Linked DNA regions of Homo sapiens: region 2 is linked to region 1. Evidence: fine-mapped expression QTL. A gene starts in region 1. The other region holds a variant in brackets. All regions are shown on one strand. Distances are from middle to middle. Region 1 holds the start of GYPC (glycophorin C (Gerbich blood group)). Region 2 overlaps GYPC (glycophorin C (Gerbich blood group)).

Region 1 (16,077 bases):
CTCACCCTACCAGTCAGGGAGCCAATGCAGGGGTTCTGCCAGCTGCTAAATATGTCTATACCAATTATGCATTCTGACACTGAGAAAATGACCACAGGATGAGTCCGGGGACCCACTGGGCCCACCGTAAGTCAAATCTGAGCTAAAACTCCATTAATTACCTGACCTCCATAAGCTCCTACTTAAACTGGAGAACCACAATGACAGTTTGGGTCCCCTGGAGTCAACGTCAGCTCAGAGCCAGTGTCCAGTAGTCCCTGAAATGTCTGATCATTTCCCTTTCCCCAGTGCACAGTTACCCTGGTAAAAGGCTGGAGGTCTCCTTGAGAAAGGATGAGAGAAAGATTCATTGCACAAACTGTCAGTAATGTATTGGGGTCCTTCATCAAGGGGACCCGGCCTGTAAACTGGGTCTGTAAACTGGCTCAAGTATGCAAATTGATTGAGGGGCCATGATTCTCTGTTTTCATAATTCAGATTAGTATTTTGTCCATTTGACCTAGAAGTTTTCCATTTGTATAATGTAAGTAGGAATGTGGTAGGCTTCCTATCAATTTCACTTCTAGGAACACCGTGATTATTTAGCTGATGCCAGAGCTCTACACAAGTCAGACTATTCTTATTGCCGCTTTGACTCTGCTGTCCATTACGGTAGCTATGGCCACCTTGCCTTTGACTGTTTAGTGCTGCCACGTGGCCCCTGCCACCTCAGGATCCAATTATTCCAATCGTATTTAAATTTTGTAGCTGAGTGACTGCAGTTCCCACAGTTAGATCTGACATACAGAGAAAAGCAATACAGGGCTCTTCAAAGATGCAGTTGCTGCCCTCAAAAATCTATTTCTCAAGGAATTGGTCAAGAGTATATCTTCTGGACCCTCCCAGTTGGGATGAGTAGGTCTAAAGTGACTAATGCACTCCACCATCCCAATCTCTCTAAGCCTCTGGATCCCTTCCTCTACATTAAACCAAGGGAGATCAAGCGTTTCCAGCTCACTCACAGTGGGCCATCTTTTAATCGATATTTCAGCTAACCAAGCAAATAAACTATTAGAACTTTTTTTTAACTCCCCAAGCTGCAACATTAAATGCAGAGTCCCTACTTAGTGGGCCCAAATCAATAAATTCAGCCTGATCCAACTCATGTTCCTTCCACCATTATCCCACACCCTTAATATCCATTCCCATGCCTGTGCTCCAGATTGCAGTTTACATAAATTAGAGAACTCAAACAGTTCTTTTCGAATGTAGTGCACCTCCTCATGGGTCACACTCTGCACCTCACCTCTAGGGGCCCACCAAGCCTTTAGTCTAGTTATAGGCCTAGAAGCAAACAGAGGTGTTGGGGGTGGCTTCTGAGGAGAATCAACATTATTTTGCCTGGCAACTGCCTCAGGCAGCGCAGGGTTTATCTCTTCAGACAAAGGTGGAAAGGCTGATAGCAGCATGGGTGGGGGAGAGGACGTTGCCACTACTGGGGATGGGGAAGCTGTTACTTCTGGCCAAAAATGTTCATCAGAGTTTATTAACTCAGTGTCCCCAGCTTCATCAGGGTCCTCCCACATGTCCCCATTCCAAGTTGCAGGGTCCCATTCTTTTCCAATCAATGCCCTCATTCTAACAGTAGACACCTGGTGAGGCTGTGCATGCATCTTTCATTGCAGGTCAGCCACTAGTATAAGAACTTGTGTCTGTTTTTCCACAATTTCAGCTCTTTCTCTATAGAAGTTCAGACTTTCGCTCAGGGCAGTCTTAGCAGATTTGAGGCTCAGTATCTGCTTCTGAAGCCGGGAGACAGAATCCCTGAGTTCATCATTTTTTTCATCACTTTGTCCCCGAACTTAGGGGCAACCAACCAGCTTCAATATGTTCCTTGTTTCTCCACATATGGTCAAAGGCATTATGTATAGGGTTACTAAACTACTGGCCTCTCACGAGTGAAGAATCAGGAGTGTCAAATGCATTTATTTTGCATAACTCTCTAAACAGTTCATGCCAAGGACTATCAGTGTTCTCCATACTATTAGAAGTAGATTCCTTAGCATTTTGGGGTCTAATCATCTTAAGCAGCCAACTCCAGAAACCCCAAAACAAATGAAGGAACTCCATCCTTCATATTCTGTTCCTCTAGAACCACTCCTGGTACGAATATCTGTGTTAGTCAAGGTTCTCTTAGAGGGACAGAACTAATAGGATCTGTATATATATATATAGTGTGGAGCTTATTAAGCATTAGCTTACATGATCACAAGGTCCCACAATAGGCTGTCTGCAAGCTGAGGAGCAAGGAGAGCCAGTCCAAATCCCAAAACTGAAGAACTTGGAGTCTGATGTTCCAGGGCAGAAAGCATCCAGCACGGGTGAAAGATGTAGGCTGGGAGGCCAGACCCATCCCTCCTTTTCATGTTTTTCTGCCTGCTCTATATTCCCTGGAAGCTGGTTAGATGGTGCCCACTAGATTAAGGGTGGATCTGCCTTCCCCAGCCCACTGACCCAAATGTTAATCTCTTTTGGCAACACTCTCATAGACATACCCAGGATTAATACTTTGTATCCTTCAATCCAATCAAGTTGACACTCAGTATTAACCATCACACCTCCAAATGAGGAAACAGTGTGAACAAAATATTCACCTAAAAGAAGCTGTGATTTGTAAATAAGCAACTGACAGCATATTCGGCCTCTCTGGTAATCAAAGAAAATGCTGACACAAATAACTATGTATGTTTCTTTTCTATGGAATTAACTATGATTTTAAGTTTGCTGTTTAATTCTGGCAAGAGACTCTGAGATAAACACTGGTACTCTTGATTGGGAAGAAAGTAAAGGTCACAGCCAGAACTTATGAATGTATCAAAAGCTTTAAATGCATTTGTAACCTTTGATTGAGTAATTCTGCTTGTCAGAATATACCCTAAGGAAAAAATTATGAAATCCAGATATTTATGTTCATATGGTTATCACAGCACTATTCAACCAGCAAAGAAAATGAAACAACCTAGTAATTAAAATGAGTTAAAGAGCTTTTCTACTTTTACATGAGAAAATGCTCATGACATAATGTTTAGTAGTAAAAGCTCAGCACTTGAAATCACGTATTCAGTAAAATCTCAAGAGTATAAAGCAAATATTCGTAAATGCATAAAAAAGACTAAAGGTAAATAACCTTAATGTGCTGGAGATTGCAAGCAATTCTTAGGGTTTAGGTATCTTTTTGGCTTTTTCTTTTTTATTTTTTCTTTTTGCACAAAGAGCATGTGTTACTGTGATGAGGGGCAAAACCTTTCATTAAAGGCCCAAGCAACATCTACCTACCACCATCTGTAAGGGCTCACCCAGGAGACAGCAACAGCAGCAGGGGACCGCCAACTCCACTCCCAATAAGGAACTAGCACTGAGGATTTGGAAGGCAGTTTCCCATGAGCAGTTTCTTCCCTGAAGAGGAAGAGAAAATTCATCTCCAGGACTGGATCATACCATCTCACATCTTGGAGGGCTCTGCAGCTTGTATCAGCCACAGACAGTCAATGAAGACACAGCTAGAACCGTCCATCCCGGCTGCACTGCAGAGCAAGTTCTTGTCACTGTGCTGAACTTCTGGGTTCTCATCTTTACAATGGACTCTTGGCAATACTCCGTTTAAGAGTATTTATGGGAACTAGACAAGATAAGAACTGGTTTATTATTGCAAGATATAGCTGAGTTTTTTTTTTAACTTCATTAATAAATATCCAACACATGAAGACACACTAATAATACATTTCTTGACTTATGTCAGACTGTTACCATATAATTAAATTTTTCACATAATTATTTTCCCTTCTTAAGAGTCATTTATTTAACATTAGACACTTTCATAGTTAAATTTTCTAAAATATGTCAAATGTTTCCCTGTTAGCTAATTTGCTACACACTAAGACACACTATTTACTTTCTTTTTCAAATGACTTGGGGTCCTTACTATGAACAAAGTATGTGTTAGAGGAGGAAGGGGGCCAATATCTTTAAGTAACTCCAGTGTACTCTCATTGTAATTACCTCTTTAATTATTATCGAATATATTACTCACAACAGCCTAACTTTGCAGATTGCTCCAATTTCCAGGCTGAGAAAAATGAGGCTCAGAGAAAGAAAGTGAAATGCTGAAGGTTACGCAGCTAGTAGGCAGTAGAGTAACTAACCCAGATTGAGTTCCAAAGCCCTGTGGTCTTTAATAGCGCAAGGAACTGTCACATCCTCCAGTGATGGCTGGAGCTGAGATTGCTTTAGTTCTGTAACAAATGCTACTTCGTTCTTGTATCTGACCTCTGCAGTTTGTGGGGCTTTCAATTTTCACTGTTTAGTTCGTTAGTTTATTAATTTTTGGCTTATTTTCTGTAAGGAATTCTCTGCAACATTTTGATGCCTTCAACCTGTCTTACCCTAAGAAATTAAGGAAATCTCTTATGATTACGTCTAAGGCCAGTAGGTTCTAAATGAGTCTGTAAAAGTGACTTCTCTAAGTGTGCTGCAATGACCTAATGACTTGTCCGTTGTTACCTGGCAGAACTTTCTGCTTCTTTCCAACTTTCCAGCTGCATTTCAGATAATTAAAGTTATTTTCTCTCAGGACAGAGGAGCGGGACTACTGTTCCACGTAGACGTATGTGTATGTATTACCAAAAAAAAAAGTTAAACTGTTAAAGTAATCACGGGTGCAGTGGCTCACGCCTGTAATCCCAGCACTTTGGAAGGCCAAGGTGGGTGGATCACCTGAGGTCGGGAGTTCGAGACCAGCCTGACCAACATGGAGAAACCCCGTCTCTACTAAAAATACAAAATTAGCCAGGCGTGGAGGCACATGCTGGTAATCCCAGCTACTCGAGAGGTTGAGGCAGGAGAATTGCTTGAACCCAGGAGGCGGAGGTTGTGGTGAGCCGAGATCACGCCGTTGGACTCCAGCCTGGGCAACAAGAGCAAAAACTCCGTCTCAGAAAAATAAATAAATAAATAAATAAAAATAAATTAATCATTACTCATTGCTGTTTATTAAATGCCTTTTCTGTTCCCACTGTGATTCTACAATCACTGCCTCTGTAAAACCCCGGAATGCAGGTGTTCTTGCCTCCATTTTATAGATGAGGAAATCAAGACTCAGGGCTTCCCCACCAGGCCAAAGGCATTCTGTGAGTAGTTTATTTCAATTCAACATGGCTGTGCTGCACATGGCAGTTGGAGTAAAGATCTATCAGCATCGGGGGTTCTTCATGATCTAACTAAAGTGAATCATGAGTGCTTTCCCACTGCGTCAAGAAGGCCTGGAGTTTGTGCAGCCCGGCTAGAGGTGAGCAAAGCCTCTGTGTTGCAAATCTCCAGGGCGCAGCCTCTCATTGTATTCAATGCAGATGACAGTCCCAAAGGCACCGCCCATACATTGTACAGACAGCTGGCCTGGCTCTCCGGATTGTGCAGGATAGGCCTTAATGGCAGAAGGTAGGGGAGAGGTGGGCGTCACAAAAGTGCTTGGGGAACTATAAAGTAAACAATGAAAAGCAGCACAGGAAGGTTCAGACATCACACAGGAGAAGCACAGGGTGTTCCCCTGGGTGGGGATTTAAAACAAGGGCCTCAAGTTCCCTGCCCTTGTCTCTGGGCAGAAGGGGCAGATAATGCTATGATACATTTTTTGTAGGTGGTGCCATTTGACTGCATTTAACCAACAAAGGTATGTATCGAAATCCACGTGGAGATTTTCATGGCAAAAGTAGAGCGAATTCACAAACTGCACTGTGTCTGGCAGCTTCAGACAAAAGCAATGGGAACAAATCACGACTCTTGTCCAGCAATTCTTCCTGTTTTGGAATGATCTTTGCTCAACAGCCCATCCATGAGTACAGGGCCCCCAAAGGCCAACAAGACAGGGACTCTCTCCAGGGACAAATGCCCCGCAGCTGAGAGAGGCCGCCCAGCTATCCAGCGGCCGCGCAGCCAGCCAAGATTTCAACACAGGTCTGCCCTATTTGGTCACCATCCCCGACAGTGCTGGGCCAGGCCATCATGTCACATTGGGGAGTTTTCCCTGCACTCCAGGGGGAATTCTCAACCACAACCTCTGTATCCGGTAGTGGCAGATGGAAAGAGAAACGGTTAGAAAAGCGTGGTTCTTGCGCAGGAAAGTTGGAGCAAAGAAGAGTTCAGAAGTGGGCGGGTGTGTGTTTAAAAAAAAAAAAGGGGGTGGAAACCCCACCAGCCAAGTCTGCAGAAAAAAAATAAATGAAGTCTGCCTATCTCCGGGCCAGAGCCCCTCCCCTCGGCCCGCGCGGGAGGAGTGTGACCCAGGTGCCGCTTCCTCTCGCCGCCGAGGGTCAGGAGCCCGGGAGCGCGACCCTCCCCCGGCCCGGCCTGGCCCGGCCTGGCCAGTCCCCGCGGTCTCTGCCCGGGCTGACGCCCAGGAATGTGGTCGACGAGAAGCCCCAACAGCACGGCGTGGCCTCTCAGCCTCGGTGAGTACCCGCCGTGGGGAAGGGTCCTGGGGACCCACTGGAGGCCGCGGCCCGCAGCAGCCAGGGGCCGAGCCACGGCCACGGACGCCCTGGTGTCCCGGTCCGTGCCGGGCCTCCAGGCGGAGGAGGCGTCCGCTGGGCTCAGATCCCCGACTCCAGCCCCGGTTCCCCGGCGCCTGGGCTGCGCGGAGTCCCTGTCCCGCGTCCCGGACCCCTACGCGCAGCCTCCACGCGCTCCGAGCTGGAGAAGCCGCCAGCCCGCCCTCCCAGGGCGTGTCGCCCGCTTTCTGTTTCTTTGTGCGGGGCATGTGAAATGTGTGGGGCCAGAATTGTCTCCCTAAAGAACAGTTAGGTGAGAGTTCACATCACAAGTTGCTTCTGTGCTGCTCCCCAGCCAGGGTCCGACCGGCCAGGCTCCGGTGAACTCCAGGCAACTCCAGCCTTGCCCAGGGACTTGCTCGCTCCGCTGGGCGCCGCAAAGGCACACAGATGCGAGGGAATCCTGCGGCCTGGATCCTTTGGGGATTTGTAATTCCTCGCTGCTGGTTTTCTCTTTTAAACCATCACGTTTTCTTGCTGAGAGGAAATCATCTGTGATGAAAGTCTTTGTAGATGCTTGGAAACATTGCTGGGCCTCTCTCTGCCCTCTTCCTCTGCCGTTGGACTTTTGCAATAAAAACTACCATTTGATTTTACCAAAAAACGTAATGTACATCCCTCTTACCCCCACCCTGCCGCGGTCTGATTCTTAGAGTCTGTCAGAGAGGAGATACCCTGAGCCTATCATGTGACAATGATACCTTATTGATATGATAATGATATGGGTATTGGAGACACCAACTCTTTTATAAGTCTTTGAAATCCAGGGGGTTGTGAGGCCTCACCCCTCACCCCGCCTGAGCTTGGAGCTTGGCGTGGAGGAGTGCTGCTTCGGTCTACGTGTGTACACGGCACTCCATGTGCCTGTGGTTGTGCTTGCGTCAGCCTGGGAGTGCGCAGGCATCAGTGGTGCTTGGGAGCGAGGCCCCTCAGTCTGCACTGGGATCATCTGCACTGCCTATAAACAAGGCAGCCTCTCTTAGCTCCAGTTTCCTCATCTGCAAAGTAGGAAAGTAGGAATAATAACAGGAGATAACTCATCCAGCAGCACGAAGTGCGTATAAATGTCCCGGCACGGAGTCTGACACATCCTAAGTGCTGGATCCGTGCTGGGCATGTTTATATAATTGCACATGAGACTGTGGTTCCCGGAGCACGTAACTTGAGCATATGTTTATGTGTGTGTATACGGCAGGTCCTGGGTTAAAGGGACAGGAGCCACTGTCATTATTCCAATTCAGTCACTGAGGAGGTGAGGCTGAGAGGCATTCTCATGTCTGAAGAGGATGGGCTTGCCTGACCCCCGCCCCCGTGCCCAGCCCAGCCCAGCAGCCCAAGCAGTTCTCCAGGACTCAGGTTTCAGACCTTCAACACTTGCCTTGGGAGACAAACAGCGGTGCAGCCCTTGCTTGCAAGCCATTCCACATTAGACTTCGGATTGATTTATGGCAGGATCCCTGCTGTGCGAGAACTGCAGGGGGGGTGGGGGGCGGCTATTTCTTGCTGCTAACTCAGGCAGGATGTGTCTATATCCTGTCTCAGTTTATGTAGCTGCTCATCAGAGCCAGAGGTTAGAGCGGAGAGGACCCACTTCCGCCAGGCCGGCCTGCTCTGCTCAGCTCAGCTGGGCTAGGCCCCAATGCCACAGTTACTGCGCGTGAGTCATGCACAGCAATCCATTGCCTTGCCCTTGGATGGAAGGGGTCAAGGCTCAGTGAGAAGACGGCCAGGTTTGGCAGCTTTATATAGAATTCACCGCCTCTGGCAGAAGCAGAGGATTGCATTAAGTGCCAAATGAAATTCCACCTCAGCCATTGCTCAATTCCTCCAGATGTCACTGGCACTGGGAGTCACATGATGCTGGTGGTCAGCAGCTGGACCCTTCCAAGGGTGCCCGTGGTTGGGCAAGTATTTCTGGGGACTTGCAGAGCTCCCTGGGGAGCAAAGGGTTGTGAAGTACAAGGCATTCTGCGCTTGTGGTGGGAACAAGTGAACCCATCTGCAGTGAGTAGGAAGAGGTCCCCTCAACAGAGGTGAGAGGTTGGGCCAAGTCAAGTCAGTTTGCCTCTTCAGGTGGCAGACCTGTATGTACATCTATGCCTCAAGTGCCTGTCTGAGGCCACAGCCAAAACATCTTCCAGTAACTGAGCATACCCAGTGGGCCAACAAGCACGCTCTAAATACAAAACCAAACAAACAGTAAAGTTAACAGTGAATGAAGAGTTAAAAATAGGAGAAAGACACCTTCTCCCTACCTCAATGGCAATTACTTTATTTATTGAGGATAATCCTTCTAGAAGTAAATTTGCTGATACAAATATTTCTTATTTTACATAATAAAAATGCATTTTATATATTTTACTTCATCTTGTTTTTTTTCCATCAGAATATCTCTTAAAGGTTATACCTTGTTATTTTCTTTAATCAGTTCCTCTGCTGATGGGCATTTAGGCTGTATGCAGACTTCATTTAATTTTTTTAAACCACACACAGCAGTCCTGTGACAATGAGTAAGGAGGATTTTACATGCATGTGTCTGTAAACTGTTAGGATAAATTCTCCCACCTCAGCATTTGATTTCTGGGACAAAGTGTGTATTCATTTAAAATGTTAGTAGATCTTAAGAAACTACCCTCCTAAAGGTCACACCGGTTTCTCATGCTCACAAATAGCCTATGAAAGTCACTATTTCCCTGCGTCCTCACTCACACTGCATTTTTTATCTTGGCCAAACTGAGAGGTAAAACAACAAAACAAACGCTGTCACTTTGGAATGAGCCTCTGTAATTAAGTGAGACTGAGCATGTTTTCTTACTTCCATAAGAGGTTGTATTACTTTTCGGGGAAGTGTCGGTTGATGCTTTTGTCCATTTCCTGTCAGCACCCCACCCCCGTGAGGAAACGTGCCCCAGAAGTGAAAGGACATGTCCTCATCACATGACGAGTGAGGGGCAGAGCAGAGGCCAGAGCAACATCCGTGCTGTGGAGTCAGCCCTGGGTTTGACTGCCCTCCAATGTTCACCAGCTTTGGGAGAGAGAGGAAATACCTCAGCACCTCAGTTTTCCCATCTGTGAGTGGGAATGATAACAGCCACTTCCCCAGAGTCACCCGAAGAGCAACAGCAGAAGGGCCTGGACCTGCTCCCAGTGGCAGAGGCTTGGGAGGTGGCTTTTGTTAGCGAAATTTATTGGAGCAAACCTGGCCTGAGGATGCTGGTAATTTCAGGAGTCACCCTCCAGACAGCTGTTGTTTTTCGCTTTTGATAAAATAACAACAAACTTAGATGCCGAGCCCTGGTAAGGGGCTTTCCTGGGTCTCCCCTGCACACCTGCTATGATAGGCATTTTCTTTTCTTTTTCTTTCTTTTCTTTTTTTTTTTTTTTTTGAGACAGAGTCTCGTGCTCTGTCACTCTGGCTGGAGTGCAGTGGTGTGATCTCAGGTCATTGCACCCTCCACCTCCTCCACCTCCTGCGTTGAAGAGATTCTCTGCCTCAACCTCCCAAGTAGCTAGGACTACCGGCATACGCCACCACACCCAGCTAATTTTTGTATTTTTTGTAGAGACTTTCGGATGAAACACCAGAGGCTCGGGGGAGATAAGCCGCCATAGGGCACCCAGACACTGAGGGCGCAGCCAGGCTGTAGTTACAAACTGCCAGACCCCACAGGCAACTGAGGCCAACCCAAGGAGAGAGTTGCAGGGTATGTGGGCCCACAGCTTGTATGTGCCAGGCAGGGCCTGCTGCTGTGGCTCTGCACACTGAGGAACTGCATGCACAGACACTCAGGACCCGCCTGCCTCCCCCAGCTCCTCAGCCGGGCCTGTGTCCCACCCCAGTCCACCGTTGTGTCCATGCTGTGCTTTCTGTGGTCAGGCCTGGCATGCTCTGGGCTGCTGCTGCCCTTGCCCGCCTTAGCAGCTGGCTCGGGGTGGCCCTCGAGCCCTCCCTCACGCACCGTCCCAGGCTTGCTGCCTTTCCAGCTGCACCTCTCACAACTGTTCACGACAGGCCCCTCAACACGCCGCGGGCCTGGCACACACTCACCTGCTGGTCTGCTAGGACCCAGTTTCCCAAGCCTAGAAAACGACCCACCACAGCCTTGGGCACAGTTTGCAGCCCTGACAGATTCCTGAGTCTGCCTTTTCCCAGAATTCTGACCTCTCCAGGGGCTCTGTGACCCCGCCTGTCCCCCACTCAGGGCCTGTCACAGACAGGGGTTTGCTGAGCCACTTTGAGGCAGGTGGATGATTGCAGGGATGACCCAAGGCCCACGCTCCCAGGACTGCCACCATTCCAATACCAAAAGAGCCTTTAAAAAGCCTTCACTCAGGAGCTCCTGGTCCAGAACTTGGCATGGACTTGGAGGCCAGTAAATACTAAGTTGAAATGGACAGGAGTCAACCCCAAACAAATTCTAAAGGCACAGTTGTTGGGCCCCAGGAATCCCACCTAGTCCTTCCCACCTTCTCACCCAGCTGGGGTTCATTTTCATATCCACTCCCTTCCCCTACCCCACCTCCCTCTCATCTTGGCCTGGGGTTTTCTTCAGATCCTTACATAATCGGAACTTCTGACAGAATGCTGGCTCCTCTCCTTAGACTATACATTTTCATTTTTCTACATTCTTCCAGAACAATGTTCCTATACAAAATCTTAACCCATGGCAGAAACTGGCAAGAGCCCATTTCCCATGTGCAGGCAGAGCCAGGCCGGCGACACTGGGTTCCTTCTTAGGCAAGGCGAGGGTTGGGTGGACCCTGGCATGACTTCTCCAGCCCCTGGAGAGCCTCTGCAGTTCTGACCCCTTCACAAGTGAGCCCTGGGCTTGGTGAGGGGTGCCTGCCTCGCCTGGCATCCCCCAGCTGTAGATGGGGGCAGAGCAAGACTTGCTGCCAACCTGCCTGGCTCTGTGGTCCCTGCTCCCTCTCCCGTTCTGCTGGCGTCACCACCCCTCCTTCAGAACTCTCTATGGAATTGCATTCTAGTCTCTCCTGCTTCTGCTTATGCATGTGAAAGCCAGATGCCCCTTCTCTCTCTCTCTTTTTTTTTTTTTTGATACGGAGTTTTGCTCTTGTTGCCCAGGCTGGAGTGCAATGGCGCAATCTTGGCTCACTGCAACCTGCGTCTCCTGGGTTCATGCAATTCTCCTGCCTCAGCCTGCCGAGTAGCTGGGATTACAGGCGTGCACCACCATGCCTGGCTAATTTTGTATTTTTAGTATAGACAGGGTTTCTCCATGTTGGTCAGGCTGGTCTCGAACTCCTGACCTCAGGTGATCCACCCTCCTTGGCCTCCCAAAGTGCTGGGATTGATTACAGGCATGAGCCACTGTGCCCAGCCTACCAGATGCCCCTTCTCTTATTGCCAAAACACTGTGGTCACACACTGCTTGGGGCCCAGCAGGCACAACAGTGACCTCTTTCCAGGGCTCAGGGGAGGAAGCTCCGCTTCGGGGCATGTAGAGCCAGCCCTGGGCAGGGTGGCCTTGGTTATCTCCCTGCACCCCTGGCACACCCTGATGGCTCTGTTTATCTGCACTTTGCACATGATGGTCTTGACTGACACATCCTCGCAGAGAGCCACTGCCAGGGCGCCTCACACCCGCTGCTCCCACACGCAGTGGGCATTTTTACGAGGGGCTCAGGCACAGGGTCTCCAGCTGACCCAGCCCAGCACTGCCACTCTTCCTCCTTGAACTCTGGCATGGAGAATCTTCACATTTTGTCAGCAGCCGATGAGCACATGTATTCTCAGCACAGTCTTAAAAGGGGGGAAATTATGGGTTGCCAGATCAAAACCTGATAAAACAATGATGCCTCTGGTGTGGGGCCCAGCCAAGCCCTTCTCCTGTATTCACCGGGCAACAGGGGCCCATTGGATATGAAATCCACTTTCGCTTGAGAAACTCATCCAGTGCTCTTGCTGAAACCTACACACAGGCCTTAGCAATGCTTGAAGCTTCAAGTTCAGGTTCCCCTTCTGTATTTTTTCTTAAACCTTTAGCTCAAATAGACTTTGTGTCAATTTGCTAGTGATAAAGGGTTAGCTTTGAAATCTGAGGATGAGGTTTTGGGTCTGGATCCACTATGAGCTGGCTGTGACCTGGGACAAGTTGCTGGTCCATCGTCTGGCACAGGGATGGCTTCACAGGGATGGGACCTGCCCAGCAGGGTCCCGCACTTCCTAGGTTTAATGCTCTGTCACTGCTATCTTCAAATTCTTCTCTTTTGAATAAGAGGCCTCATGTTTTTATTTTGCACTGGGCTCTGCAAATTCTACGGCTAGTCCTGAACCTGTCAATGGAGCTAATAACAGTCTCTACCTCAGGGCTTTGTTCGGAGGATTCAGTGCATTCTCACAGATAAACATCCTAGTGTAGTGCCTGGTATGTGCTCATAATTGTGCTTAATTGCTTCCGCTCACTGAGTGTGTGCGTGTGTGCTTAAACGCCAGCTTCCTCCCCACTGCCCTGCTCCCTCCTTGCTCTCCAGACTCCTCAGATGTTTGCCCCTTTGCCACTGAAAGTCATACCCAATGACAGGGGGCCATCTGCATCTGTGTGGTCCCACAGAGACCAGGGAAAGGCCCTCTCGCTCCCGATGCTGCTCCTTCATGGTTTTTATTGTTTTTGTTTTTCTTTTGAGATGGAATCTTGTTCTGTCCCCAGGCTGGAGTGCAGTGACATGATCTTGGCTCACTGCAACCTCCGACTCCCTGGTTCAAGCAATTCTCCTGCCTCAGCCTCCCGAGTTGCTGGGATTACAGACATGTGCCACCACGCCCAGCTAATTTTTGTATTTTTAGTAGAGATGTGGTTTCACCTTGTTGGCCAGGATTGTCTCAATCTCCTGACCTCCTGATCTGCCCACCTTGGCCTCCCAAAGTGCTGGGATTATAGGCATGAGCCACCACGCCCAGCCTCCTTCATGTTTTTATCCAAGAGTCAGCACTGCGGTGGAGACAGCCCAGAAAACACACGCAGGCCCTGCTCTTGGCCACGCACGCCAGCTGTGTGATGGGGAGCAAGCCTCTTACCTTCCGGAGCTCCATTTCCTCACATCACCCTGGAGAGAGGTCATCTTTGCCCCCACCTCATCGGGGCACCAGCCCCTCAACCACTCATACCTGGGCCATCTGGTTCTCCATGGAGAAGAGTAGGCTCTTTGAAAGCACCGTATGAGTGAAGGAATGAGTGAATGAGTCAGCAAACGGATGGAGGGATGTGAAGGTCCATCCATGTAGGCAAACAAGGTCTGCAAAGAGTGCCCTGGGCCCCAGCATTCACTGCACCCTCTCCCTGCCCTGGGCAAGGCCCTGACCCTGGTGCACTCTAAGCTCCTCTCAGCTCAGCCCCTGACCTCTCCCCTGTCTGCCAGTGCCCCTCCCCTGAGTGTGAAGCCGGGGGCCTCCTTCCCTCGGCTCACCTGGCCCTCATGCGCTCTACCTTTCAATGTCTTCTTTAGGCAGTCATTTCTCCTTTTTCCTTCATGCTCCCCTTTGAATGGGCTTGGAGCTGGGTCTCTCTAAGGTTCTGGTCTCTCTCTCTCTCTCTCTCTCTCTCTCTCTCTCTCTCTCTCTCTCTCTCTGGAGAAAGCTCCTTCTCAGCCTTTTCCAGCTTTTCCAGGTCCCAAACTCCTGGGAGGGGAGCCAGGCCTTGCTTGATCATGCCCTGGATGGATTTGTCATATTAATCCCTTTCCTTCAACTTCGGCAAAACTTCTCATTTTAGCGAAATTAATTTCAGTTATGGTTGAAAATCCTGAGTATTCCCTTTTTAAAAAATTTTCATAGTCTTTTTTTTTTCTTTGTCACTGATTCTTTACACTATCCTGAGCCATCCTCCTCATCTGGTGACAGTAGCCCTGTCTCAGAGAGTAGAGATGAGGCTCCACTCCACAGACGCCATCTCATTTAGCCCTCTGGCAGCCCCAGGGAGGTATTTTTATCTCCATTTTGCATGTGATGATACCGAAACTAGCAAGTGGATGTGACTTCCAGAGAACCTACCAGCCCCTCACACCTCCTTCTCTTCCCCCTCTACATTGAAAGCTCAGCCAGGGCCTGACCCCAGACGCAGTGCTCAGAGACCACAGTGCTTCTAGAGGCCCACAACAGTATTAGAGCTTCTTTTAAAATCAGAAGGAAGGAAATGAACCTCTAAGATCAAATAGTACATTTGCCTTTATACCAGTGCAGCTATACAATATGATTTCTAATATTTGGGAGGAGAAGGGACCCATAAGGTAAAGCACCTTGGCCCATGGAAGTCACCCTGTGACCTGAGCTCAGCCCATTGGAGGTTGAGGGGCTGAAGCCCACTGCCTCTGCTCTCCCTGCCTGAATCTGCCCCTTGCTCCCAGGGCTCTGATCCTCCTCTACGTTGGCAGTCCTGGTTCCTTAGCAGTTCTGTCTGTCACGGGAGGACTCCCTGGGCTGGGCATCTGCAGGGGCAGCCTCTACCTCTCCCTGTGGGACTTCACTAACACAGCTGGAGTAGATGCTAGGGAGGCTCAGGTCATGCACTACTTGCTGTCTTTCTCTCTCTCTCTCTCTCTCTCTCTCTGTGTCTCTCTCATTTTCTGTCTCTATCTTTCTCTTACTCTTTTGGCCTTTTAAGTCAGAAGAATAGGCTACTCTTCACTTACAAGTTTAAAAATAAGTTGTCTTTGCCCTATTTCATTATTGCAGAAGCAATTCATGTTCATTGTAGAATTGTAGGAACAAGATCAAGAGGAAGGATGTAGGAAGAATCTCTATGGGGAAGAGGGTGACTTTGAGATACAATCTCTTGCCCTGATCTGAGCTTTCAGTTACCTAAGGTACAGTACAGTAAGATACTGAGAGAGAGAGAGAGACTAGTTCATATAACTTTTATAGAGTACGTTGTTACAATTGTTTTACTTCATTATTCATTGTTGTTAATATCTTACTGTGTCTAATTTATAAAATAAACTTTATCATAGTTATTCGCATATAGGAAAACTATCATGTATGTAAGGTTCAGTCGTATCTCTGGTTTCAGGCATCCGCTGGGGGTCTTGGAAAGCATCCCCCATAGGTAAGGGGGAACCACCGATTCATGGGACAGATAGATGATCACCCAGTGGCAGCTCGAAGGGAGATTAGGGCACAGATAAGGCTGGAGGACATCAGTGTAAAGAGGCCACCCTGTGAGGGGCCCAGAAGGGAGCCCTGGAGACCCTCTGGGTGCATTGATCACCTCAGATGGGGGCCCAAGGGATGCCGACGCAGGGCAAAGCACTACAGCAGACTCGGCACAGGTGCCTGGGGCTGTGCACGCCCTGGCAAGCGCCCACTCTGCCCTGCTCCGCACCTAGTGAGGACGTGTAACACACACAGTGCCTCCTTTAATGCTGAAGGCATCACACAGATGCAGATATTATTAATTCCAGTTTAGGAAGACAAAAAGTGAGGCTCAAAGAGGTGATTTCCCCAGTGCTTCCCTGTGCATCACTGACACGCTCTCTCCTG
Region 2 (16,077 bases), 36 kb after region 1:
TACAACCTCCACCTCCCAGGTTCAAGTGATTCTCCTGCCTTAGCCTCCTGAGTAGCTGGGATTACAGGCACCCGCCAGCATGCCCAACTAATTTTTGTATTTTTAGTAGAGATGGAATTTCACCATGTTGGTCAGGCTGGTCTTGAACTCCTGACCTCAGGTGTTCCACCCACCTCAGCCTCCCAAAGTTGGGATTACAGGCATGAGCCACTGCACCCGGCCTGGTAAATTGACTTTTCTAACCAGGCTTGTAGGTTCCTCGCAATTGAACACTCCAGGTAACTGCCACAGCACCTGGCCAACTGTCAAGCAGTCAACGTTGCTGTTGCTGCTGCATCACTGTCATCAACAAGGTTTGTCATTGCAGGAAGTCTCCAAGGACCCCCATGAAACACCTGCATTTCCTGTCATGATTTTGAGGCTGAAATCATCTTCCTCCTCCCAGAACACCTAGGTGTTCTAGTCTGAAGCCATCCTCACTCTCAACTCCCCTCCTTCGAGCCCTCACCCTGTGCCTGAATTCTTCCTTCTTTGCTGGGACAGATGGACAGGAGGAAGACAGGAAGTGGGGAACCCCTTCAACAACTCCTATGGCAGAGGGGAGCCATAGGAGATGGGCCGGGAAATGTAAAGACCAGCCCACGCAGGAAAAAAAGAGAACTTTTTAGCACAGTGTCATCTGAAAATGCAAGAGAAGAGAGGCTCTTGGTGGCAACAGAGGAGTGTGACTTCCAGCCTCAGGGCTAGCACCTGACCCCTGCTCTCCGTCCACATCTGAAAAATACCACTGGCCCTGAGAATCCATTGCAACTGAGGTTCTGCACCCCAACAGCTGCACTCAAGCTGCCAACTGAAGCAGAGAGCACTGCCCGCACTGCAGGGTTGTGCCTGTGTGCCCCGCTGCCTCCAGGGGTGGCTGCCTTCTGCCAGAGAATGGACAGCTGACATCCTGAGGACATAGAGAGTTAGTAGGAATGACTGTAGCCAATGGCAAATCCCATGGATGAAAAGCCACTCCCAACTCCACAAAGATGAGCATAGTGAAGGCTGCAGTTTAGTTGGTTCGTGGTTCCCCAGAAGGCTTTCAAACATTCAGCAGTTGTCATTCAGTGCCAGGCACCCAGTCTAATGCTGAGTATAGAGTTGTGAGCAAGACAAGCCTGAACGTGTGGAGCTTCCTGTCTGGTAGGGTGTTGCAGGGGGCCGGGGGGACCTTGCAACCTGGAGGAGGGCTGGGAAGAAAAAAAGTAGGATGCTTGGGTCTTTCCAAAAAATAGGTCCTCTCATGTCTGTCCAATCGTTGTGCTGGGTAATTGTCTATTTCTGATACCAGACCCAAGCTTGGCCGTAATCAACACCTTATTCTGCCATGAACCCACCCCCAAGGCTGCCCGCAGATCACCCCCATCCTAGTTGCTGAGCTCAGCATGATCCTAATCTCAACCTCAGAAGTATCCCTCAGCTCCAGCAAGGGGCAGGCTTTCATTCCAGGCCCCTTAAGCTGGATGCAGACCAACCACCTACTTTCTGGGCTGGATCTGAGCTCACTCAGCCAGTCTTCTCCAAAGACCTGATATCACTGCTGCTAGCTGAATGGGTACAGTGTAAGGGAGTGCGCCAAGGGGGGCTCTCACCCCTCCATCTCCAGAGGCTTCCGGAGCCTTGGAGCCGTGGATGGCAAGCAGACACTGGGGAGAAAGCTGAGAAGTGGGGAGAGCTGCCTTAGATGCTGAGCTCTCTGCCTGGAATGCTTATAGGCTTTGTGCAGCAAACTCCTATTTGCCCTTAAAGGACTAATCCTGATGTCACCGCTTCTGGAAGCCCTCTTTACACCAGCACTTCCCAGCCTACAGCATGAATCAGAATCTACTATAGTAATTACTGGGTCCCAGTCCTAGTGTTTTTCTTCAGTAGGTCTGGGCTGGGGCCTGAGAATTTCTATTTCTAACAGGCTCCCAGAGGATGCTGTGTATCCAGAGACTATGCTTTGAGAATTGCTGTCTCACAGCATCCACACCTTCCCAGACAGCCTTGAGCTTCCTCTCTATGCTGATTCTGATCTATCAATATAGGGCAGCTCTGGTTGGGCTGAAATGTCACTCCCCTGGAGTCTGTCACATTGTGAAACATGTGTAAATTCAGCTCCACACACTTGGTGGGGTGGGGGGCATGGAGAGAGTAGTTCCAGCTGAGGGAACTTTCCTGCCCACCACGCTCCTCAGAGGGCATGAGCTTGGAGGGAGCCCACATTGGGAGGCCCAGCTGGCAATCCCAATGGTCTCCCAATGAGGCCCCGAAGCTCTCAGGTCCTACCTCCCCTCCCAGCCTGGCTGCCCTGCTGGAAGTGTGTGTAGTCTCCCAGTATACAGATTTGAGTACAAGGTCCCTAACCAGAAGCCAAGAAATGCACCCCAAGTTGTTCAAGCCAAATATCTCACCTGGAAACCAGCTTACCAAGGCTCTACACTTTGCAGTGCCCTGTAAGGCTAAACACACTGACTCAAGGCTGCCAGGGCTTCAAATGATTGACTTCTGACTCTCAAGGTACAAGCCGGGGAAAATAACACTTTTCTGGGACGCAGCTGCCAAATCTGGAAAATGGGGCTAATAATAACTCCTATCGAATGGAAATGTTGCAAGGTCTGAGTTAAAATACATTAAATGTTGAGAGCAGCACCTGGCATTTAGTATGAAATTATTAACTGTTTTAAAGGAAGGGAAAATAACAGTCCCTTCTAACCCTGATTGTGTTGGACAAACTGTCATAAGAAATGCTGGTCTTTACCTGGAAAATTTCTAAGGGCAGTTCTGGGTATTTGAGCTTCTATAACCATCCATGCCTACTTAAGCAAGATGTTATTCTTTCTTTCCGAACTTTGAGGTGCATAGTGGTTAGAAAAGTCTAGAACTCCACCACTAAATCCATTCATTTATACATGCATGCATTTACTCATGCATTCAGTGAATATTTATTGAGTACCTACTATGAGCTAGATACTAAATTGGAGGCTGCACTTGTTCACTGTAATAAAGTCTAGCACCCACTTGAACTTGCTATGGCTCCTGCTTCAGGTCTTGCTACTGAGAAGCACTGTGAATGCTGGATCCTCTACCCTGCCTGGTTCCTGGTTCCCAAGGTGCTGACTCCAGACCCAGAGTTCACTGGGTCTCTTGGCGGCCTCAGTGCCTTGTATTATCTTCTTCCCCACCTCCAAGCTCCTTGGTGGCCCCAGACACCACTAGCTTGGCCCACCTGCTTCCTGCTGTGGACCCCTAGCTGGGAGTCTGTTTTCCCCTCACCCACTATGACTCCTGACTCCAGCAGGCAGTTACTTATAAGAAAGAGGCATCTGGCAGCTGCACTGGGGAGAATGACCTCATAGCACTATAATTAAAGTGATCATCTGAGTGGAAATGACTATTATGAAGCATCCTTCTCTGTTTTATTATGTAGAGCCATTGTAATGGGAATACGGGATTTCCTATGTTAATGCTGATATTTCTGTGATCCAATAAATCCTTCTTCACAATCATCTCCCAGAGGAAAGAAGGCATTCTGTGCAGCAGCTCTAGGAAACATCAGGTCCCCAATGTCCTAGACATCCTACCCTCTTTGGCCAGGCCATTAAGCTGTGAAAAAACACACTCAGTAACTTGGATAATGTCATAGAGTGGTCCTTCCCACAGCAGAGTCAATGTAAAGACCTATGGGAGGGCTTCAGGAATGACTCCTCAGACAGGAGCCCTGGGAAGGGCTTCTCCAAGAGAGAAAGTGCACTCCAGAGGCAAGAGCACTGGCCAAGTCCTGACCTGATACCGGATGAGCTGTGTGATCATGGGCACATCACGTCTCTGAGCCTTGGTGTTCTTCCTGTGAGATGGGCCAATAACACCAGGCACCTCATAGGATGGATGTGAAGACTGCATGATAGAGTAGATAGAAGGCAGTTAAAGCAACACCTGGTGCTATGGTTTGGATGTGGTTTGACCCTGCAAAAGCTCATGTTGAAATTTGGTTCCCAAGGTGGCAGTGATGGGAGGTGGGACCTAGTGGGGGATAGTTGAGTCACAGGGGCAGATCCCTCATGCATACATTAATACCCCCTTGAGGGAGGGAGGGAGTTCTAGCTGTCGTGAGACTGGATTAGTCACTGGAGAGCAGGTTGTTATAAAAGCAAATTCAGCTTTCTAAACTCTCTTGCTTTCTATATCACCTTGTGGTCTCTTTGCGAATGTCAGATCCCCTTCTGCTTTTTGCCATGAGTGGGAGCAGTATGAGGCCCTCACCAGATGCAGCTGCCCAATTTGGACTTCCCAGCCACTAGAACTGTGAGCCAAACAAACCTCTCTTCTTTACAAATTACCCAAGTATTCAGCTATAGCAACTCAAATTGGACTGAGACACCTGGTGTGAGCATCAGACACTCCACAAACATTCTTTCTTAAACACAACAAGAGTCCCTGCCTTCATACACAGCACAGATATCTGTTGAGCATCTACCACATGCAGGCACCACTCTCAGTGGAGGCATACTGCAGAGAACTTAAATGGGCCTGGAGTGACCTGGTGGTTCAGGTTCAAACAGTTCCATCCCAGTCAGTGACCAAGCAGAACCTGGTTCCTGGTCTGTGCACCCCTGCTAGGAGTCGGTGGGTGCACCACACTGTCTCTGTCCACTTGAACCCATTCTCAGAGCTGCTCACACCTGAGCAAAGGATGCAGCTTGGGCCAAGGTGCTGCTAGGCATGGAGAGTCTTCCTCTCTGACCTCAGATTCTTGTCCTCTGTTCACAGAGCCTGATCCGGGGATGGCCTCTGCCTCCACCACAATGCATACTACCACCATTGCAGGTGAGTTCTCATCACAGAGCCTCACCATAATGGAAACTGCCGTGACTTCAGATGAGCTCTCATCACAGAGCCCTTTAAGCAGCCAGGGTTGGGGGACTTGGTGAAAACATCCAGGGGAGAACTGACCTAAGGACTTGGACAGGGGTGGCTGTGGCCATTTTTTCTCTCCCTCAGAGGTGGTTTTGAATGTGGAATGGAGGAGTCTACCCCTGGGTAAATAAATATACATAGGTATGTCATATGTATCTGTATTTATATTTATTGGCCTTTCTCAGGGCTGTTGACTCACAGGAACTCAGGAGCTGGAGAGGCAGCAGTTTTGGTGAGGGAGGTTGAGGGTGGAGGTGAGATGAGGGTAGACTGACCAGGCTACTTAGACTTCTCCACCGTCTCCCTCATCCCACATTATTTTCTTCCCTGGGTCCATGACCCCCAACCCTCCATCCTCAAGGAAACTTGAGCCTGCCTTTGCCTTGCTTTGAACCCTGAGCAACGGGCTCCCCATGGGTCATGGCTGTGACTGCAAACTGTGTTTGAAGAACAACCAAGTTTGGGAGGTGCTGTGTGCTCTGCGACCTTCTTTGAGATCCACACTTCTCAGCAGCTTATTAATAACTCAGGAAACATCTACAATTTGAAAAGAAAGAAAAAGCAGCAGAAGCAAGCAATCAAAGACACCTGTTGGACTCTGTGTAACCTGGCATTCTCCAACTCATTGCACCACTGAGCTTTTATTCTTCCTAGGTGATATTATTAACATTATGCAGATACAAGTGTTCCCCTGAAGGCAGTAGGAAGTTTAGGAAATTGTTCTATAAAGGTGGGACTTGGGAGCAGTTTCAGACTTTCCATATTCTTCAGCAGTCCCTCCCCAAGGCCTCCAAATAAACCTGCATTCTAAGAAAAGACAGAGGCTTGCTCTGCAGCTTCAAAGTAAATGCCCAAACTCAAAACACCCCCACCCCATGAGACTGCTGCCCCCTCACTCTCAAGGTCCTGAGTGATCTGACCCCTCCTGAGCAGCCTTACACTGTACTTCCCCACCCCTCTGGAGTCCCAGCAGAAGTGAGGGGTGACTGCCCCTCGCACAGCCAACACCTTGGCATTCTCTGCGTTACCCTCTCCCACTTCAGTCCTTTGTGTGGCCAAGTCCTGCTCCTCCTGCAGACTCACCCCAGTCCTCAATCGCCAGGAGGGAATGGGAGCAGGGTAGGCTGAGGAGCAGTCATCGGGCCATTGAAAAACACAAACCACACAACCTGCCCCAAGCACAGTTAATAGCCTCATTTTTCCCCCTGTATAGTGTACATACAGCAACCAGCTCTGCCCTGTTTTCTGGGACTTCCCTGGTTTTAGAATGAATAATCTCCAAGCAGTGTTCTTGCAACTGTTGCAAGGACCATGTTAAATTGCTTTAAATGTTGAGACCTGCACCTGGCACCTAGTAAGCGATTGTTAGTTGTTTTAAAGGAAGAGGAAATAACAGTCTCTTCTAACGCTGATTGTGTTGGACAAACTGTCCTAATAAATGCTGTCTTCACCTGGAAAATTTCTGAGGGCAGTTCTGGGTATTTGAGCTTCTATAACCATCCATGCCTACTTAAGCAAGGTGTTATTCTTTCTTTCTGAACTTTGAGGTGCTTGTTGATTGGAAAAGTCTAGAACCCCACCACTAAATCCATTCATTTATATATGCATGCATTTACTCATGCATTCAGTGAATATTTATTGAGTACCTACTATGTGCTAGATACTAAACTGGAGGCTGCACTTGTTCACTCTATATAATAAAGTCTAGCACCCACTTGAACTTGCTACGGCCCTTGCTTCAGGTCTTGCTACTGAGAAACACCGTGAATGCTGGATCCTATACCCTGCCTGGTTCCTGGCTCCCGAGACCCAGATCCTGAGCCAGTGTTCACTGGGTCCCTGGGCTGCCTCAGTGCCTTGTATTATCTTCTTCCCCACCTCCAAGCTCCTTGGTGGCCCCAGACACCCCTAGCTTGGCCCATCTGTGTCCTGCTGTGGACCCCTAGCTGGGAGTCTGTTTTCCCCTCACCCATTATGACTCCTGACTCCAGCAGGCAGTTACTTATAAGAAAGAGGCATCTGGCAGCTGCACTGGGGAGAATGACCTCATAGCACTATAATTAAAGTGATTATCTGAGTGGAAATGACTATTATGAAGCATCCTTCTCTGTTTTATTATGTAGAGCCATTGTAATGGGAACGTGGGATTTCCTATGTTAACACTGATATTTCTGTGATCCAATAAATCCTTCTTCACAATCATCTCCCAGAGGAGAGAAGGCATTCTGTGCAGCAGCTCTAGGAAACATCCCGGTCCCCAATGTCCTAGACATCCTACCCTCTTTGGCCAGGTCATTAAGCTGTGAAAAAACACACTCAGTAACTTGGATAGTGTCATAGAGTGGTCCTTCCCACAGCAGAGTCAATGTAAAGACCTATGGGAGGGCTTCAGGAATGACTCCTCAGACAGGAGCCCTGGGAAGGGCTTCTCCAAGAGAGAAAGTGCACTCCAGAGGCAAGAGCACTGGCCAAGTCCTGACCTGATATCGGATGAGCTGTGTGATCAAGGGCACATCACGTCTCTGAACCTTGGTGTTCTTCCTGTGAGATGGGCCATTAACACCAGGCACCTCATAGGATGGATGTGAAGACTGCATGATAGAGTAGATAGAAGGCAGTTAAAGCAACACCTGGTGCTATGGTTTGGATGTGGTTTGACCCTGCAAAAGCTCATGTTGAAATCTGATTCCCAAGGTGGCAGTGATGGGAGGTGGGACCTAGTGGGAGATATTTGAGTCACAGGGGCAGATCCCTCATGCATACATTAATACCCCCTTGAGGGAGGGAGGGAGTTCTAGCTGTCGTGAGACTGGATTAGTCACTGGAGAGCAGGTTGTTATAAAAGCAAATTCAGCTTTCTAAACTCTCTTGCTTTCTATATCACCTTGTGGTCTCTTTGCGAATGTCAGATCCCCTTCTGCTTTTTGCCATGAGTGGGAGTAGTATGAGGCCCTCACCAGATGCAGCTGCCCAATTTGGACTTCCCAGCCACTAGAACTGTGAGCCAAATAAACCTCTCTTCTTTATAAATTACCCAAGTATTCAGCTATAGCAACACAAAATGGACTGAGACACCTGGTGTGAGCATCAGACACTCCACAAACATTCTTTCTTAAACACAACAAGAGTCCCTGCCTTCATACACAGCACAGATATCTGTTGAGCATCTACCACGTGCAGCACCACTCTCAGTGCAGGCATTAGGCAGATAACTCAAATGGGCCTGGAGTGACCTGGTGGTTCAGGTTCAAACAGTTCCATCCCAGTCAGTGACCAAGCAGAACCTGGTTCCTGGTCTGTGCATCCCTGCTAGGAGCAGTGGGTGCGCCGCACTGCTCCTTTCCACTTGGACCCATTCTCAGAGCTGCTCACACCTGAGCAAAGGATGCAGCTTGGGCCAAGGTGCTGCTAGGCATGGAGAATCTTCCTCTCTGACCTCAGATTCTTGTCCTCTGTTCACAGAGCCTGATCCAGGGATGTCTGGATGGCCGGATGGCAGAATGGAGACCTCCACCCCCACCATAATGGACATTGTC[G/A]TCATTGCAGGTGAGCTCTCATCACAGAGCCCTTCAAGCAGCCAGGGTGGGGGGCCTTGGTGAAAACATCCAGGGGAGAACTGACCTAAGGACTTGGGCAGTGGTGGCTGTGGCCATTTTTTCTCTCCCTCAGAGGTGGTTTTGAATGTGGAATGGAGGAGTCTAGCCCTGGGTAAATATATATATACATGCATACATCGTACGTATCTATGTATGTATTTATTGGCCTTTCTCAGGGCTTTTGACTCACAGGAACTCAGGAGCTGGAGAGGCAGCAGTTTTGGTGAAGGAGGTTGAGGGTGGAGGTGAGATGAGGGTAGACTGACCAGGCTACTTAGACTTCTCCACCATCTCCCTCATCCCACATTATTTTCTGCCCTGGGTCCATGACCCTCAACCCTCCATCCTCAAGGAAACTTGATCCTGCCTTTGCCTTGCTTTGAACCCTGGGCAAGGGGCTCCCCATGGGTCATGGCTGTGACTGCAAACTGTGTTTGAAGAACAACCAAGTTTGGGAGGTGCTGTGTGCTCTGCGACCTTCTTTGAGATCCACACTTCTCAGCAGCTTATTAATAACTCAGGAAACATCTACAATTTGAAAAGAAAGAAAAAGCAGCAGAAGCAAGCAATCAAAGACACCTGTTGGACTCTGTGTAACCTGGCATTCTCCAACTCATTGCACCACTGAGCTTTTATTCTTCCTAGATGATATTATTAACATTATGCAGATACAAGTGTTCCCCTGAAGGCAGTAGGAAGTTTAGGAAATTGTTCTATAAAGGTGGGACTTGGGAGCAGTTTCAGACTTTCCATATTCTTCAGCAGTCCCTCCCCAAGGCCTCCAAATAAACCTGCATTCTAAGAAAAGACAGGCTTGCTCTGCAGCTTCAAAGTAAATGCCCAAACTCAAAACACCCCCACCCCATGAGACTGCTGCCCCCTCACTTTCAAGGTCCTGAGTGATCTGACCCCTCCTGAGCAGCTTCACACTGTACTTCCCCACCCCTCTGGAGTCCCAGCAGAAGTGAGGGGTGACCGCCCCTCGCACAGCCACCACCTTGGCATCCTCTGCATTACCCTCTCCCACTTCAGTCCTTTGTGTGGCCAAGTCCTGCTCCTCCAGCAGATTCGCCCCGTCCTCAGTCCCCAGGAGGGAATGGGAGCAGGGTAGGGTGAGGAGCAGCCATCAGGCCATTGAAAAACACAAACCACACAACCTTCCCCAAGCACAGTTAATAGCCTCATCTTTTTTCCCCCTGTATAGTGTACATAGAGCAACCAGCTCTGCCCTGTTTTCTGGGACTTTCCTGGTTTTAGAACGGAAAATCTCCAAACAAGGTTCAGTCCTGGGGTATGATTCTAACGTGTCTGCAGAGTGCTTAGAGTGGTTAGTAGCAGAACTGTGAGGAAGAAAAAGAAAAGGGAGGGAAGGAAGGAGAGGAGGGAAGAGGAAAGGAGAATCATTTTAGGAAGGCACAGGTTACAGTGCCACCACACAACAGGTTGGTGAAGCATGGGGAAGGAATGAACTGGCCTGTTTGGTGTTGGTACAGTTGTCTCCAGTGTACACGGTTCAACTTATGAGTTCTTGAGTTTGGAATGGCGTGAATGCAAAAGCATTCAGTAGAAACGGTACTTTGAATTTTGAACTTTGACCATTTCCCAGGCTGGCAATATATAGTATGATACACTATATTATAAAATAGTCTCTGGGTCAGATGATTTTGCATGACTTTAGGTTAATGTTAAGTGTTCTGAGCCTGCTTAAGGTAGGCTAGGCCAAGCTTCGATGCTCAGTAGGTTTGGAGTATTAAATGCATTTTTCATTTACAGTATTTTTAACTTATTATGGGCTTACAGGAACCTGGCTCCCATCATAAATCAAGGAGCATCTCTTTTGGTTGTGGCATTGTATCTGTCCTCACACAACCCCTGTGGGTCTTGACCACCATCCCAGGCCCCAGAGCCCCTGCCTCAGACTGACCCTTGCACCTCTTCCCACCTGCAGGTGTGATTGCTGCTGTGGCCATCGTCCTAGTCTCCCTCCTCTTCGTCATGCTGCGCTACATGTACCGGCACAAGGGCACGTACCACACCAATGAGGCCAAGGGCACGGAGTTTGCTGAGAGTGCAGATGCAGCCCTGCAGGGAGACCCTGCCCTCCAAGATGCTGGTGATAGCAGCAGAAAGGAGTACTTTATTTGAGGGACAACAGACTTCACTTCCCTGAATGCCTCCCCCATCTCCATCAGGAAAAATACACCCCATCGCCCAGCACCCCTGCTGATACCACCAGACAGAGAGAGAGAGCACTTGATTCTTCCCGAGATAGCCACCTGGAAACACTAGGTGCCTGCCCAGGGAGGAACGGAGGAGGACTCGCGCTACAAGAGGCCACTCCCAGGGACCCAGGGAGGCGATGGCCACCCCAGAGGCCACCTTTTGCTCCACGGAGGTGGGAGAAAATCTGGGCACATGGGGCCCCCTGGGCAGTGCAGGACAACATCAGCTCACTGGCAGGAAAGTCCTTGTTGAGGGTGAGGGGGTGCTGGGGTACCCGGGGGCTGGGGAAGCAAGGAAATAAGTCATCTGTATGCTGACTGGGGATAATGGCATCAAATGTCAGTCCTTGACATTTGGGGGGAACAGCAGGTGCCAGAGCTAAAAGGTACCTTTGTCTGCCATTGATCCAGCTCAGAACGATTGGAAATAAATTTGAAATGTAACCGAGCATTCCGAGTCCAACAGTATTACTGTAGTTATCTGGGGAAAGATAAACGCCACCCAGGGCTTGCTTTTCACCTGTGCAATATTATATTCTCTGACGGGGCCAGGACAGTTCATTTCTGGCTCTTGTGGGGGCCAGTTCCCAGAGAGCACAGCCAGTACAGGCGGCTCCCAAGCCTGCCAAGGGAGGAAGGACAAGTGACCAGCTTTCCTTTCCCTACAGGGGCACCAGCTGCAGGAAACAAAAGGAAGGGTGAAATGTCCCTCTAGAAATAGCCGTTCCCAGTGGCCAGGGCACTAGCTGAAGTGTTGATTTTCCAAGGTGCAGTATTAGAACAAATGGACCTGATCCAAAAATATGAGTGAGTCTTGTCCTTCCAATCACAGTGACCGTGGCACCCAGGGGTGGAAGCAGAGGCTGCAGAGCTCCGCTCGATGGCTTTGGGTCCCAGCTCCCCTTTCCTGGTCCCAGGACCTTGAACAACTTGTTTGACCCCTCTGGCCCCCGTGTTCTCCTCCCTCACGTACAAATGATGCTGATAATGACACCTCTGTTGTGCCTGACTCCCAGCGTTGAGGGTCAAGTGCTCAGACCTCCCTGTCTTCCAGTGTCAGCAACTGTGTGCAGCGGTAAACAAACATTCTTCATTGCACTACTTCTGCACACTTCCTGAGGAGTAGCTGTCACTCAAAATCACAGAGTAACAGGAAGAGAAGATGAACTGGTTAACCATCCCCTTCCAGGCGAGTTTTTCCAAGATTCCCAACAGCTCAGCTGTCACTCCAAGGACCAGCAGCTATGAGGTTAAAGACTGCACGCCAGGTGCTGGGGTCACCTAGGTACTCCCTGGGGCTCAGGATTCTTGAGGCTGCACCATCTCCACTTGGGAGTTGGCAGAAAGGTCCCAAAGATCTCCCTGGGAGGATTACGGGGAATGTGAGCTCAGTGGGGGGTCCACCTGTCAGAGGAGCTGGCAATCCTGGGGCCGTGGTGGGGGAGATGAGCTGGGAGCTCACAGAAGCAGTGATGGCAGAAGCCTGGTCCAAAAGTGAGACCTTTTCCTGGTGACCCGAGCTCGCAGGCCTTCATCTATGAAATAAAGGGCTTGGCTGTATCTGCATGGCCCACACTGATCTTCAGAACACCAGTGTGGCAAAAATGGCGATAAATAGGCCCAATGAATATGCACAAGTCAGTTTAGAAAATGATGTATCATGTAAAGTGAAAGCAGTGCAGGCTCCTCAGCGTCTTCACTGGCCCAGTGTGGATGCTGACACTGGTGGGAGGGGAGCTGTGCACATAGCCTTTCCCAAGCATGTTGAACCAGAGACCCCATTTGCTCACACGATACCTGCTAGGAACTCGTGGACCAAGTGGTCCTCGGAGCACATTTTGGAAACACTCAGGTAAATGGTTTCTAACATCCCCTCCTGTGGCAATGCCATTTCAGGTTTTTGAGCACCCACATCTTCCAGGTTTGGGAGCACAGATCACTGTCCAGTGAGCACAGAGGAGGCACCAGAACCTACACATAGACACTCATTGGGGTGAAAAGGCTCCAGAAGAGGATGAGCCCAGGGCTCTCGAGGCCTCCTAGAGAGCAGGTGCCTATGTGGGGGAAGGATGATGGTAACTCATTCCTTTCTCCCTCATTGGGCCCAGGGGCTGTCTATACTAAGCTTGACTCCCTGGCCACTCACCTCCCCTTCCTCACCTCCCTTTATCCTCACTCTTTTGCCTGCCTAGTGTCCTGGAAAACAATTGAAACACAGTCTGCTCCCAGTCTACTGGGTCCCCAGACCCAGCCAGAATCAGGCTCAGCAGCAGTAGTGATGACATGGAAGCTGCAGAGCTGGTTTGTCCCAGGTGGCCTAGCTCAGATGCCACGAGGAGGGAACTGTTGCAGGCTAACTGCAGAGGCCAGATGGCCACACCAGAGAGCAGGGCAACTTAAAGAGATAATGCACACACACACACAGAGTGCACACTGGTGGACACTTGTGGGCAATTAATAATCCTCTCTTAGATTAGGGACCAGGTTTTTAAATCTGATACTTCCTCCAGCAATGCACTAAGTCATTCTGCAGCACGTCTGCAACCAGTGTTAGTTGGGGTAAATAATGCACAAATTTGCACACACCAAAGAGTCAAAAAGACTGTTAAGAAGGAAGAAAGAGGAGAGGAAAGGAAGAGAGGGGATGGGGCAGAGAAGGGCTGGAAGAAGAGGGAAAGGGACAGAGCTCTGTCTGTAGAAAATCCCAGCTTCTTTGCACATAAGCCTCCTTTAATCCTCGAAATAATCCTGGCAAGTGGATATCCTTATCCTCCCTTTAGATCTGTAGAAATTGAGGTGCAGAAAGGTCAATGAGCTTTACTGGAGGTCTCACAGTTTCTAATGGCAGAGGAGCCATTTAACTCAGGCCTGTCTGGCCTCCCTTCAGGAGGTTGAGATGAGTCAGCAGGAGCTGCCCAGGGAGCAGAGCAGGTGGCATCAAGACTCATGGATGCTGGCATGACTGACCAGTGCTGGGATCAGAGAATCCCCAGCCAGGTCTCTGCCACCCAGTGGCCCTGGACAGTGATGGCCCAGGCACCTCTGCCAGCATCCCCATCCCTAGTCAGAGCTGGCCTGGTTGAGAGGTCTCTCCTGGTGGCGAGAGATAATGCAGTGGAGCCTATCTGCTCTTGGTGGGATGATTAGCTTATAGAGATAGCAAGTGCTGCCAGCCCGGTCACACCTCATCCACACTTCCAGCACCCAGGACGCTTGCACCCAGGCCAGTCTTATGAAAAGGAAAGTGATCATCTAGATTACATCATGCCAAAGCATCCCTACCAACACTTCTTAGATGATTTGTGCTTCTTCAAAGTGCTCATTCCCAAACTAAGAGTATTTAGTGATTAAATTTCAGATTCAGAGACAGATAGATAATATATATGTGTGTGTGTCTGAGTATATAGCTGTAATCCACAAACATTTATTAGGTACCATGTAAGTGTTGAAATTACATAGCTGAATATAGCAGCCTCTGCCTTCAGGGGTCCCTAGCTTAGGGGAGAAGATAAACATGTAAATATATATAAGCCCTAAAGTATTATGGATGCTGAGAGAGTAGTGATACAGATCAATTTAAAACACTAAGGAGAGAGAGATCAGTTCTATCTTGGGAGTGAGATGGACTTAGGAAAGGCTTTAGAGAAGAAGGGAGGCTTGGGCCAGTTGCACAGTATATAAGGGCTTGACCACAGAGCGGCTTCAGTCCCAAGCTAAGAAATTAGGACTTTGTTGCATAGGTAATAAAGAGTCACTGAAGGAACAAGTCAGTCTCTATCATATGGATAAGATAATGATCAAGTTAAACAAGACAAAAGATGAAAATGCACCATGGAAATTCACAAAGGGGCTTCAAAAGATCTAGCAAGGCTCAGACCCTGCCTGTGGAGCTGGAGGCCTCCCCACCCTGGGGCTCACCCACTCCTCCAGCTGCTCCATTGTTTAGTCTGAATTTCACATGACTTGGCCCATCCTGCCTGGAGAGAGATGGATCTCATCTATTCACCAGAAGAAGCGGCAGGAGGTCAAGGCTTTGAGCCAATTGTTATGTAAATATTAGAGAGAATTTTTTCTTCTTTTTTTAATGGAAGGAACTCCCCTTCATGATTTTATCTTTTTGTCCTCCCTGGAGAGAATCTGCTCAATTGTTTTTCATTCCTTACCTAAAGATTTTTATCATCATAGCAACGGGAATGATTTAGGGGCCAACAGTACTTTAGCTGGCCCACTGCCACAAGTAGAACTACAGGCATTTTAATGTTTGCAATTTAGCATGTCAGCATGATGCTATGAAAAGAGAGTGGCTCTGGAATTGGACAGACTTGGACAAAAATCTCATCTCAGGCACTAACTAGCTCTGCGTGACCTAGGAAGAGTTACTTAACTTCTCCGTGCTCCACGGTTCTTACCAGTAACATGGTGACAAAATATTTGCATTTTCATGTTTTGAATAGTAAGTTAAAGGAAGATATAAACTTGCCAAGAATTGTGAAGGGTCTGAGGTTTTGCCCTGCTTTTAAGTGAGCAATTCGGCCTATACCAGTTTCATAGATGCTGACAGAAGACATGAGATACCTGGGTCAGAGATAAAGGCACTTACAGCCCAGCAAGCAGCATGACATCAGCATATTTGAATGGCATCTCTTCATCTCCAAGTTAGACGTGGGTGATGTGGGTGATCTCAGAGGATGTTTATCCATATGGTGGGTGGAGTTCCAGAAGAGAAATCTTGAACCAAGAAAATCAGAATCTCATAATGGGCAGTAAAATGCCTGCCTTTTGCACTGGAGGGAGCTACTACTGGGTCTTCCAAGTCTGTTTAATACACAAACATCCTGGAAAAGGTAGTCAAGAACACAGTGCAGTTCCTGCCTCACTCAACAGATGTGAAAAATGCAAGAGACCCATGGAGAATTGTCTCCCAAAAAGGTAGGCACTGCCTAACATTGTGCCTGGTACCTGTGAGTACTCAATAAATACATGTTGAATGAACAATGCAATGAACTAAATAACAGGGCTCATAGGTCTTTAAAGTGTCCCAGCTTTCTCTCCAGAAAATCAAAAACATCTTCTGTTTCTCAAACCACATGCAAGAGTTTAAAGCAGAAAACTTTTCTCCATCCTCTGGCCAGTGTATGAGAGATCTCACTGCAGGCTTGGTCTTTTTTATTGGTTTGCTATGACAGGAACACATAGAGGCATACAGCTGTGAGAATGTTTTGGTTCATGGGTGGATCCATAAATCCAGAGCCCTGGCAATAAGGTTGGGTGGAGTTCGCCAGCCTCTATTCTAAGATCATCCTGTAATCAAGAGGTCT

What was found.
Region 2: its variant is fine-mapped to the expression of GYPC in whole blood (TOPMed, PIP above 0.99).

Annotation. Positions count from the first base shown.
Region 1 is chr2:126,649,831-126,665,907 of GRCh38, forward strand. It overlaps GYPC (glycophorin C (Gerbich blood group)), which reads left to right and starts at 6,328. Exons shown (of 4, transcript NM_002101.5): 1 at 6,328-6,482. The coding sequence starts at 6,434. RefSeq lists a cis regulatory region at 1,234-1,573, enhancers at 5,978-6,267, 7,061-7,900, 7,358-7,607, 7,798-8,027, 14,712-14,871 and a silencer at 6,358-6,727.
Region 2 is chr2:126,685,461-126,701,537 of GRCh38, forward strand. GYPC (glycophorin C (Gerbich blood group)) reads left to right here. Exons shown (of 4, transcript NM_002101.5): 2 at 4,795-4,851; 3 at 8,404-8,487; 4 at 10,486-11,207. The coding sequence ends at 10,682. Among named protein-coding and RNA genes, the nearest start is that of GYPC, 37 kb to the left of the region's middle. The variant G/A (reference allele first, on the strand shown) is at 8,478.